Regions from separate parts of the Homo sapiens genome. Here region 2 is linked to region 1. The links come from fine-mapping of genetic effects on plasma protein levels. A gene starts in region 1. The other region holds a variant in brackets. All regions are shown on one strand. Distances are from middle to middle.

The links. PIP is the posterior inclusion probability: the model's chance that the variant is causal. The UK Biobank Pharma Proteomics Project read protein levels with antibody pairs (Olink). The fine-mapping took linkage between variants from a reference panel, not from the people measured, so its PIPs are less certain.
Region 2: its variant is fine-mapped to the plasma level of the ADGRD1 protein (UK Biobank, PIP 0.99).

The regions. Positions count from the first base shown.
Region 1 is chr12:130,952,165-130,956,547 of GRCh38, forward strand. It overlaps ADGRD1 (adhesion G protein-coupled receptor D1), which reads left to right and starts at 1,743. Exons shown (of 25, transcript NM_198827.5): 1 at 1,743-2,367; 2 at 2,460-2,496. The coding sequence starts at 2,302.
Region 2 is chr12:131,008,233-131,012,615 of GRCh38, forward strand. All of the region lies in intron 12 of ADGRD1 (adhesion G protein-coupled receptor D1), which reads left to right. Among named protein-coding and RNA genes, the nearest start is that of ADGRD1-AS1, 16 kb to the left of the region's middle. RefSeq lists an enhancer at 2,240-3,439. The variant A/G (reference allele first, on the strand shown) is at 2,538.

The DNA.
Region 1 (4,383 bases):
GGACCACTCAAGGCCCTGTCTCAAATCTCCAGGCTTCAGGACACGCTGCTTTACATGGAGGCGGGCTCTTCATCTGGGCCTCTGAACAAGGCCTGAGACAGGACGCAGGCAAATAGCATGAGGCACGAGACTGTAGTCCGGGATGGAGAGTCAGAGTGAGTCTGAGGATGAGTGCAGATGCCTGCAGGGCAAGCTCTGCTGAATTGCTTTGCTATCTAGTTTTTATTACAGTCATTGAATCGGGGTGTCTCCCATTATCTGATGACAATTTTATGATGAAAAGAAACCATGCTGGCTTTGTTCGGTCATGGAGATGGGAAAGGTCCGCATATTCAGCAATCTGTTGAATTCTTCCAGGTTAAAACTGGAGCTGAGAAAAACCTGCAGCTGCCTGTCCCTCCCTTCACCTCTTCCAGCGAGAGGCAGTGGGGGACTGGAGAGCTGATGAAATGGCAGAGATAAAGGTTGTAAATTAGTTTTCCCTGAAGCCGACCAGCCTGAGCAACAGGATAAAGGTCGTTATTACAGACAGCCCCCGGCCTTTGGAGTTCACAGTTTCTCCATTGCTAGGAGATGGAACTCTCTGGAACCCTTCTCCAGCTCCACAGAGAGGCTCAGGCTATCAGAGGATCTGAGCGGTTGTAGGCTGCAGGCACAAGTTAAAAATAATCACCTAACGTTTTGACAGCACTTTCTTTTTTTCTGTCCCACAGAGATTGGAAGTCATTTTCTTATCCTCTTTAGGAAGTATGTTGGATTCAGGATTCTTAATTCCCATTTAAAGTCAGGACAATTGAGATAACTGTATCAGCTAACATTTACTGGGTGTTATGTTATACTTGCTAATAATAATCATAGCTAACATTTACTGAGTGATAATTTTTCTTAATAGAAAATAGCAGCATTTACTGAGTGCCACATATTTTCCAAGTACTGCCTGAAGAGCCTTGGATCTGTCCTCTAATTTATTGTTACAGCCCTGAGGAGGAGGAACTATTAACCCCCATTTTGTGGATGAGGAATTCGAAAACTAAGAGAGATCAAGTAATTTGCCTAGGAGCACAGCTGGTGAATGTTGGAGAAAGTATGAAGCGGTAAATATTACTTAAATCACATAGCAAATATAGCTGTGACTGCAATTCTAGGGTGTGTGTCTCTGTGTGTCCACGTGTATTTGGAGTAGATCGGATAAACTTTGGTCTTGGGTAAACTGAGGCATGTCTGGCGAAGGGGCTGACTCTTTTCTATCCCATTGAGAACATCCTCCTGGTGCTGGGGTGGGGGTATATGTGGGATGGTGTAATTGCGCAGCGTACCTTGTAATTAATTCCGTAGCTTTCACTGACGTCCGAAAGGATTAGAGAGAAAAATGTGGTCAGCGCTTAATATGGAGGGCACAGTGGGTGTGCTGCTTTCTCTTTTCCATCCCTCTGTCAACTTCATTCTCTTTTGGGGGCAAACAAGACTCAGATCTAAACAGAGTTTATGGTTTGTTTTGCATTTTGTATTTATTAATATTTATGCCGACTTTGAAGGTGCTGACCAGAAGGCATCAGTAACACACACACGCACACGCACACACACCACACACCATGTCTGTTTGGTTTGATTCTGAGCCTGAGATCCTGGAAATATTTCAGCTGTTGTTAAGAGGCTGGAGTTAGGACCCAGGAAGGACACAGCAGTGGGGATATAAATAGAAAAGGAGAACAGAACAAAGTTTGAGGAGAGAGACTTACATCACTCACTCCCCCTCCACCCAGAGAGCAGGACGGAGGTGTGAACTTGAGCCAGACCAGAAGGAGCTCGAGAGCGGCCGCAGGACAAGCCCGAGGAGCAGGCGGGCGCTCCAGGGGAAAACCACGCACAAAACCTTCTTCAGAGAAAAGGGAAGCTCCAAACCTGACTGAGACAAACGGAGGCTCTTGAAATAAAAAGAAAATACCGCAGGACAAACAGCCTCCCGTCCCCGGGCGCAGGTCGCGGTCACAGTGGTGACCTGGGATTGCTTTCCCAGGACTGCGAGTCGGGTTTGGGTTTCTCCTCCCTGCATTCCACAGCTGCTCTGGTCATCGCAACGTGTTTATTGATCACTGAAGAATCTCAAGTTTTGAGACGAGGAAGAAACACCCATTAGGTCTCCAAGACAGCTGTGTTTCACAAACTTTAAGGAGACAGAAATTTTCTCCCCTGGAACCTGTGAAAATGTCCCTTTTCCAAGGAAGTGAAGGTTAAGAGGTCCCGTTCTCACAGACCCTCAGGAATTTCACTTGGCTCCGAGCTTTGACCTCCGAGAGAGCCATGGAAAAGCTGCTGCGGCTGTGCTGCTGGTACTCCTGGCTGCTGCTATTTTATTACAACTTTCAGGTAATGTCCCCAAGTGGCCAGGATGGCGACAGGCTTGGTTTCTCCGGAGGCTTTCCCTGAGTGTGTCTCACACTGTGGTCTTTTGTGCGCAGGTGCGTGGCGTCTACTCCAGATCGCAGGACCATCCAGGTAAGAGTGTTTCCTTCTCACTCTGAGCACCGCTCTCCCCCTGCCTAGTGCAGGTATCTCAGGAACAGCCCACTTGTTCATCTCTGAGGCATCAGCGAATGGCCCTTGTTGGGCTCCTGGTCCCCGACCTCACTGCCTCACCACACACTGTGACCCTGGGCAGCTCTGCTACCCCTCACCGGCTGAGCGGTGGATGGAGAAGTGGTTCTGGGCCCCTTGAGCTGGGTCATATGAAACATTGTGATTAAGGAAATATGATCTTCATTTGAATGCCTTCTGCCTCTTTCTTTCTCTCTTTCTCTCTTTCTTCCTTTCTTCCTTTTTTTCTTTTTGAGATGGAGTCTTGCTCTGTTGCCCAGGCTGGAGTGCAGTGGCCGCAACCTCTGCCTCCCGGGTTCAAGCAATTCTCCTGCCTCAGCCACCTGAGTAGCTGGGATCACAGGTGTGCACCACTACACCCAGCTTTTTTTTTTTTTGTATTTTTAGTAGAGACAGGGTTTCACTATGTTGGCCAGGCTGGTCTCGAACTCCTGATTTCAGGTGATCCGCCCGCCTTGGCCTCCCAGAGTGCTGGGATTACAGATGTGAGCCACCACACCCATCTCATGTCTTCAGGGCAGATTCACTGGTGGGGAGTTGGAGCTCTGGCCCATAGCAGGGTCTCGGGACCTCCAGCCTCAGAGTGCTGACCAGCTTAGCCTGGAGCAGCCGATGAGTGGGACTCGGGATAGAGGGCCACCCTTGCTCCAGCCCCAGAGCCACATTCCATTGGCCATTGTGACACCCAACCAGGAAGCATCAGGACGGGGCTTCTCTCGGGAAGACAGGGAGGCACACACCCTTCGCTGTTAAGAGTGTGGGCACACGTTCTGGTCAGCCAGGGGCAGGGATGGGAAGACGAGGCTTTCTGGGAGCAGCAGGCAGTCACTGGGCTGTTGCTCCCTGCTGGAAGTTGCAGGAGGTGGGGAGGAGACCCTGCTAGTGCCTGAACCCCTGCTGGGAAGCCTGTTGTGAGCACAGCCTCTGCCCCCGCCCCACCAGAGCTTGGCTGGGCACCCCCCCGAGCGCTATTGTATGGCCCTGCCTGTCTCTGATGGGAAATCAGCCTTTTTAAAAAAATTATTTTTGTTTTTATTTTTTGAGACAAAGTCTCACTCTGTCACCCAGGCTGGAGTTGAGTGGTGAGATCTCAGTCTCGGCTCTCTGCTACCTCTGCCTCCCGGGTTCAAGCGATTCTTGTGCCTCAGCCTTCCAAGCAGCTGGGATTACAGGCCCATGCCACCACGCCTGGCTAATTTTTGTATTTTTAGTAGACACAAGGTTTTGCCATGTTGGCCAGGCTGGTCTCGATCTCCTGACCTCGGGTGATCCAACCACCTCGGCCTCCCAAAGTGTTGGGATTACAGATGTGAGCCACTGGGCCTGGCTGGGAACCAGCCTTTAATGATCAACCACAAATGGACTCAGGCCAGCACTGTGGGCAGATCCCAGGGCGATACCCAGGCCTCCAGGGAGAGCCCCTTTCCTGGATGGAGCACCAGGAGCCTGCTGGGGTCTAGGGCCAGGGGCTGTGCCCTCAGCCTCTGTCTCCTTTCCGGCTGCCCGGCAGCCCCATGCCAGGATGTTCCAGGCATCGTCGCCTCGCCACCACCTCCATTCACCAACTCGGGGGTGGGGACGCTGCCACTTCTGTTTCGTCCACATGCATAGGGAGCTCCTTTTAAAAAGGTGTGGAAGCTGTGAGTTTCCACACATTCCCCTCTCCTCAGCCAAATCGCTGAATGAAACAAGGGCTCCTGTGGCTTGGGAACGAATAAACATGCCCAGCGCTGCGTTAAAGAGAGGACGTGTCCACCTTGGACACCTTGCTTCTCGTGAATGCAGGCC
Region 2 (4,383 bases), 56 kb after region 1:
GGTAATTATCAAATCCTGGGCACGATGAGAAGCAGGTTAGTGCAGCTGCCGTGCGGGCAGCACGTTTATGTGCGCACATATGCCGGGTTCCTGCCAGCCTGCAGGGGACTTCCCTCCGTCTTTGTCTTTGTATTGTGTGCTGTCATCCTCATACATCCGCAGTGTGTTGTGAGGATGAAAGGATGCTTTGGTGCCGTAGTGTCCTTTAATTTCTTCTCCAGGGATGAGGGTGAGGGTCTAAGTCAGTACGTGAGTCTCAGTGCACAAAGGGTGGGGCCTGGGCCGGAAGGAACTTTTGTCTCCACAGCCAGCCCCAGGCAGACCATTCCAGGGCTCCTGTGATGACGGAGGGGATGATATCTGACCACCCACGGCCCGGTGGGGGCTTAGCTGCTTCTTGCCCGGCTGCTTGTACCCCTAGGATCCTTTGAGTCTCACTCGCTGCCTGGCCCCGCAATGATGGAGACTGTTCAGCTTTTACGGGTGCTCGTGCTAGGCTCAGCCAGCACCGGGACAGCCGGTTCCTCCAGGTGGACGGGGCTGAGACTGGCCTGCTCCCAGTCCTCCTGTGAAGATGGAAGCCACAGCCCACAGAGGGAAGGGCCTCTCCCCAGGCTGTGAGGGACTCACGGGTGCTCGAGAAAGATGAGTGGGGAGGTGGACCCGGCTCAGCGTGTGTCCTTAGTCACTATAGAGTGACACGGAGCACCGATGGAACCAGTAGGTCACGGTTCTGCAGCCCTCAGTGCAGTAACTGACCCAGGCAGAAGCTATCAGTGGATGTGCACACCAGCGGGAGCAGGGTTGCGGGGCGGGGGACCTCACCGACCTGCAGAGTCCTAGCTGTACCAGGTCGGAGGGTGCCTGGTGATGGGGATGTCTGCCGCACGCCTGCAGCCAGGTGGCCACACTCAACATTATCAACGTGGGACACGTTGTGGGCCCGTGTCTCTTGCTGTCACGTCATGGGAGACGTCCATGCCTCCTGTGGCATACTCCTGTCAGATGCATGGCCTCACGCCCCTCACGAGGAAGCAGTCAGACACACCTGAACTAAGCGATGTTGTGTGCTGCTGTGGTTTCGATTGCAAGGGAGAAGAAGTTGGGCAGTTCCGGATTGGGGGAGACTAAAGAGGTTCGTGCCTGAGCTAATGCACATTCCTGGGTTGAGAGAAGTGGAGTTCTGGAGGACGTGTGTGATGGTGGGGGGTGTGTGCAGTTGACTCTGGACTGTGCATTAGAGCATCTTGTAGGGTCCTCGTTAAATTTCTGAGTGTGATCATTGTTTGATGGTTATATAGGAGGCAGTCTCCATTTTTAGGAGACACGTGGTAGAGATGGAGTATGCTGTGATGCCTGCAACACACCGCTAGTGCTTCAGCAGAAAGGAAATGTGCATGTGTGCGTGTATTTGTGTGTTGTGTGTGTGCACACAGGTGCATGTATGTGCTTGTGTGGTGTATGTGCGTTATGTGTGCACATATGTGCATGTGTGTTTTGTGTGTGCTGTGGGCATGCAAATGCGCGTGTGTGCATTTGTGTGTTGTATGTGCATACATGTGCGTGTGTGTGTGTACATGTGTGGTATGTGTGTGTCAAGTGTGAGCGTGACCACTGCCAGATAAAGTGAACATGGCAAATGATAAGAGCTGAGAGTGTAGGTGAAGCCTATGCGTTGTACTGTTTTCTGGCAGATTTCCTGCTGGTTTGACTTTTAACAGTGCAAAGCTGCGGGGGCTCCTGGCATGGGCAGGAATTGTGGCTGTTGCCGTCCTTTCTGAAAGGCCCTGGCTGCAGTGCTGCTCGAAACAGAGAACAACGTCACCTGGGCAGCATCGGTGCTGAGGAAGTCGCCTGTTACCCTCGATGCTGTCTCCTTCTGCTGTTTGCGTCAGTCAGGGGCTCAGTCTCCTTCAAGAATTCACCATCACCCAAGATCACACTCAGAGATGCTGCCATGTGCCACCTTGTTGGCAAGATTTGGAGTTTCCTTCACACTGTGTTCCCAGGGTGGCGTTGAATTCTCGCGCTGAGGGAAGGTGACAAGCAGTGTGTGACGGATGGGTGAGGGGATTCCTTGAGCACACAGGCATGTGTCAGCAGGAGCCAGTTATCAAGGAGTTCCTTTACCAGGGAATATTTTCATTTGCGATGTTTGTTCACTCCCCAATGTGACATGGTAACTGTGAGGACTTGATAATTCTCCAAATAACCGAATAACAGCCCTTTTTCTTACTCCACTTGGTCTGACTTCTTTGGATTGAGTTCCTGAGCCGGTCTTCTGCACAGGCTGGGAAGTCTCTGTGTCTCCTCATAGATTTCAGCACTCCTCTGAAGCCTCATGTAACTTTAAGTCCCCTCTTTGTGTAACGGAAGGCGGAGCAGCAGCGTGGCTTTGGCTCAGATGTGCTGCGTGGGGTGAAGGACGCAGAGCCTGACCATCGGTGGGGCTCCGTGGGGCCAGGTAGTAACTTGGGGCACATTGAAGGAAGGCGGATTTGCAAAGGTGCAATCAGGAGTGGAGAGCTCTGGGGGAC[A/G]GCACAGTCACGGGCCAGGAACAAGAATGGGGGCACGCTGCTTTCCCCAGGGCCAGCCAGGCAGGCCCTGGAAGAGATGGCTTTCCCCGGGCAGAGATGGAGGGGCCCCCGGGGCAGCGACTGTGCCCTGGTAGGCTGAGGGAAAAGAATCCTGGCCCCACTATCTGCTCCGATGCCCTCTGACCTTCTGGGGCTTCCCTTTTGCTGAGCACATGAAGGGAGAGAGCCCAGAGCCTGGCTGATGGGCACAGGACGGGGCGGGTGGAGGCAGGGTATAAGGGGCAGAGGAAGAGCCAGCACAGCCTCTGCCCCACCCTGCCCCACCTCACCCCTGCCCCACCCTGCCCCACCTCACCCCTTCCCCACCCTGCCCCACCTCACCCCTTCCCCACCCTGCCCCACCTCACCCCTGCCCCACCCTTCCCCACCTCACCTCTGTCCCCACCTTTACTGGAGGAAAATGCTCCTAAGGAGGCGTCTGGCCCCATTCTCATCTTGACTTGGCCGACATCTGGCGTCGCACTGATTACCAAACTGGGCCTGGTGGAGGCCACGTGTTCCCGGAGCGGAATCCAGGAAACCACTCCAGATTTGCTCTCATATCATTTGTGTTCATAGAAGGTTCTCACTTAATGTTTTCCTTATGTTTTTCCTAAGAAATGGATCTAAGTCATCGCCGCTTGCCTGTGAGTAGATTCATCCACTCGCTCACTCACTCACGTGTGTGCTGAGCACCCACTGTGTCAGGCGTGGTTCCGGGAGCTGGGGAGAGCAGTGAACCAAACGGGAAAGCATCCGGGCCCCAGGGGAATTTCTGTTCTGGGAGGGAGATGATGACCACCGGTTGCACCATCAGGAAATGTCCACGGAGGGAAAGTCAAGGGACAAATCATGCTGCGTGTTTAGGGCCTGAAGCCCACAGCTGCGACTTTCTGTTCTGGCTAATGGCACAGCCCTAAGTGTTGCTAGCAACGTGGTTTTTCCAGCGCGTTTGGTGGAATTGCACACGTGTTGAGTTCATGGAGCTCTGCAGAAAAGGCCACGAGCATCGGGGCACTGGGCACAGAGAGTGAGAACCAGGCTCCTGGCTGAAGCGAACACACCACACGTCTTAGGGCCTTGGAGTCGCGTGCGGGGCGGGGACAAGGTTCTGCTGAGTGAGTCAGGCTGGGCGCCGCGGGGCTTTGCCTTGGTCCCCCCCAACTTTCTGCGGCCTCGAGCCCACCCTCACTTTCTGCGGTGGGGACTGAGCCCACGCATGCCCAGTGGTGAATGTTCTCAGACGGTGAATGTTGTTCTTCCGGGGAAACATCTGAGATACTACCCGGGTCTGCGGCTCTGCAGAGTGGAATGTTTATGTACGTTCTGTACGTACAGCTTGTATCTCTGTGGGACTAAAACTTTCTGGGCAAGTTTATTAGAAAAAAATGTCTAAAAAGCCTCTTCAGAGGGGCTATAATGAAAAAAATGGTTGAGACACGTGGACCTAGGGTGATGCTTTCTTTTCATTTTTTTTTTTTTTTAAGTTTGTGTTTTACTCCATGTGTGTCATCTGGACTTTGGGCTTGGATCAATAACATGGTCACATAGAGGAATTGCCGGGTCGAGCAGTCGCGTCTGTTGTTACTCACAGGCCTGAGAATCGATGACCCTGGTTTGCTCCAGACCCTGTGAACTGGTGATGATCTGCAGGAAGTCGCTTCTGCGGGAACAGACAGGGTGTTCATTCTCTATGGCGCCATCTTTGTAAACACTTTGTATTTACAATTCCAGGAATAATTCTGCGTGCTTCTTGGAGGCCTGCTCTTTCTCAGGGATGTGTGTAAGGAGACAGTGCAGAGGCCGG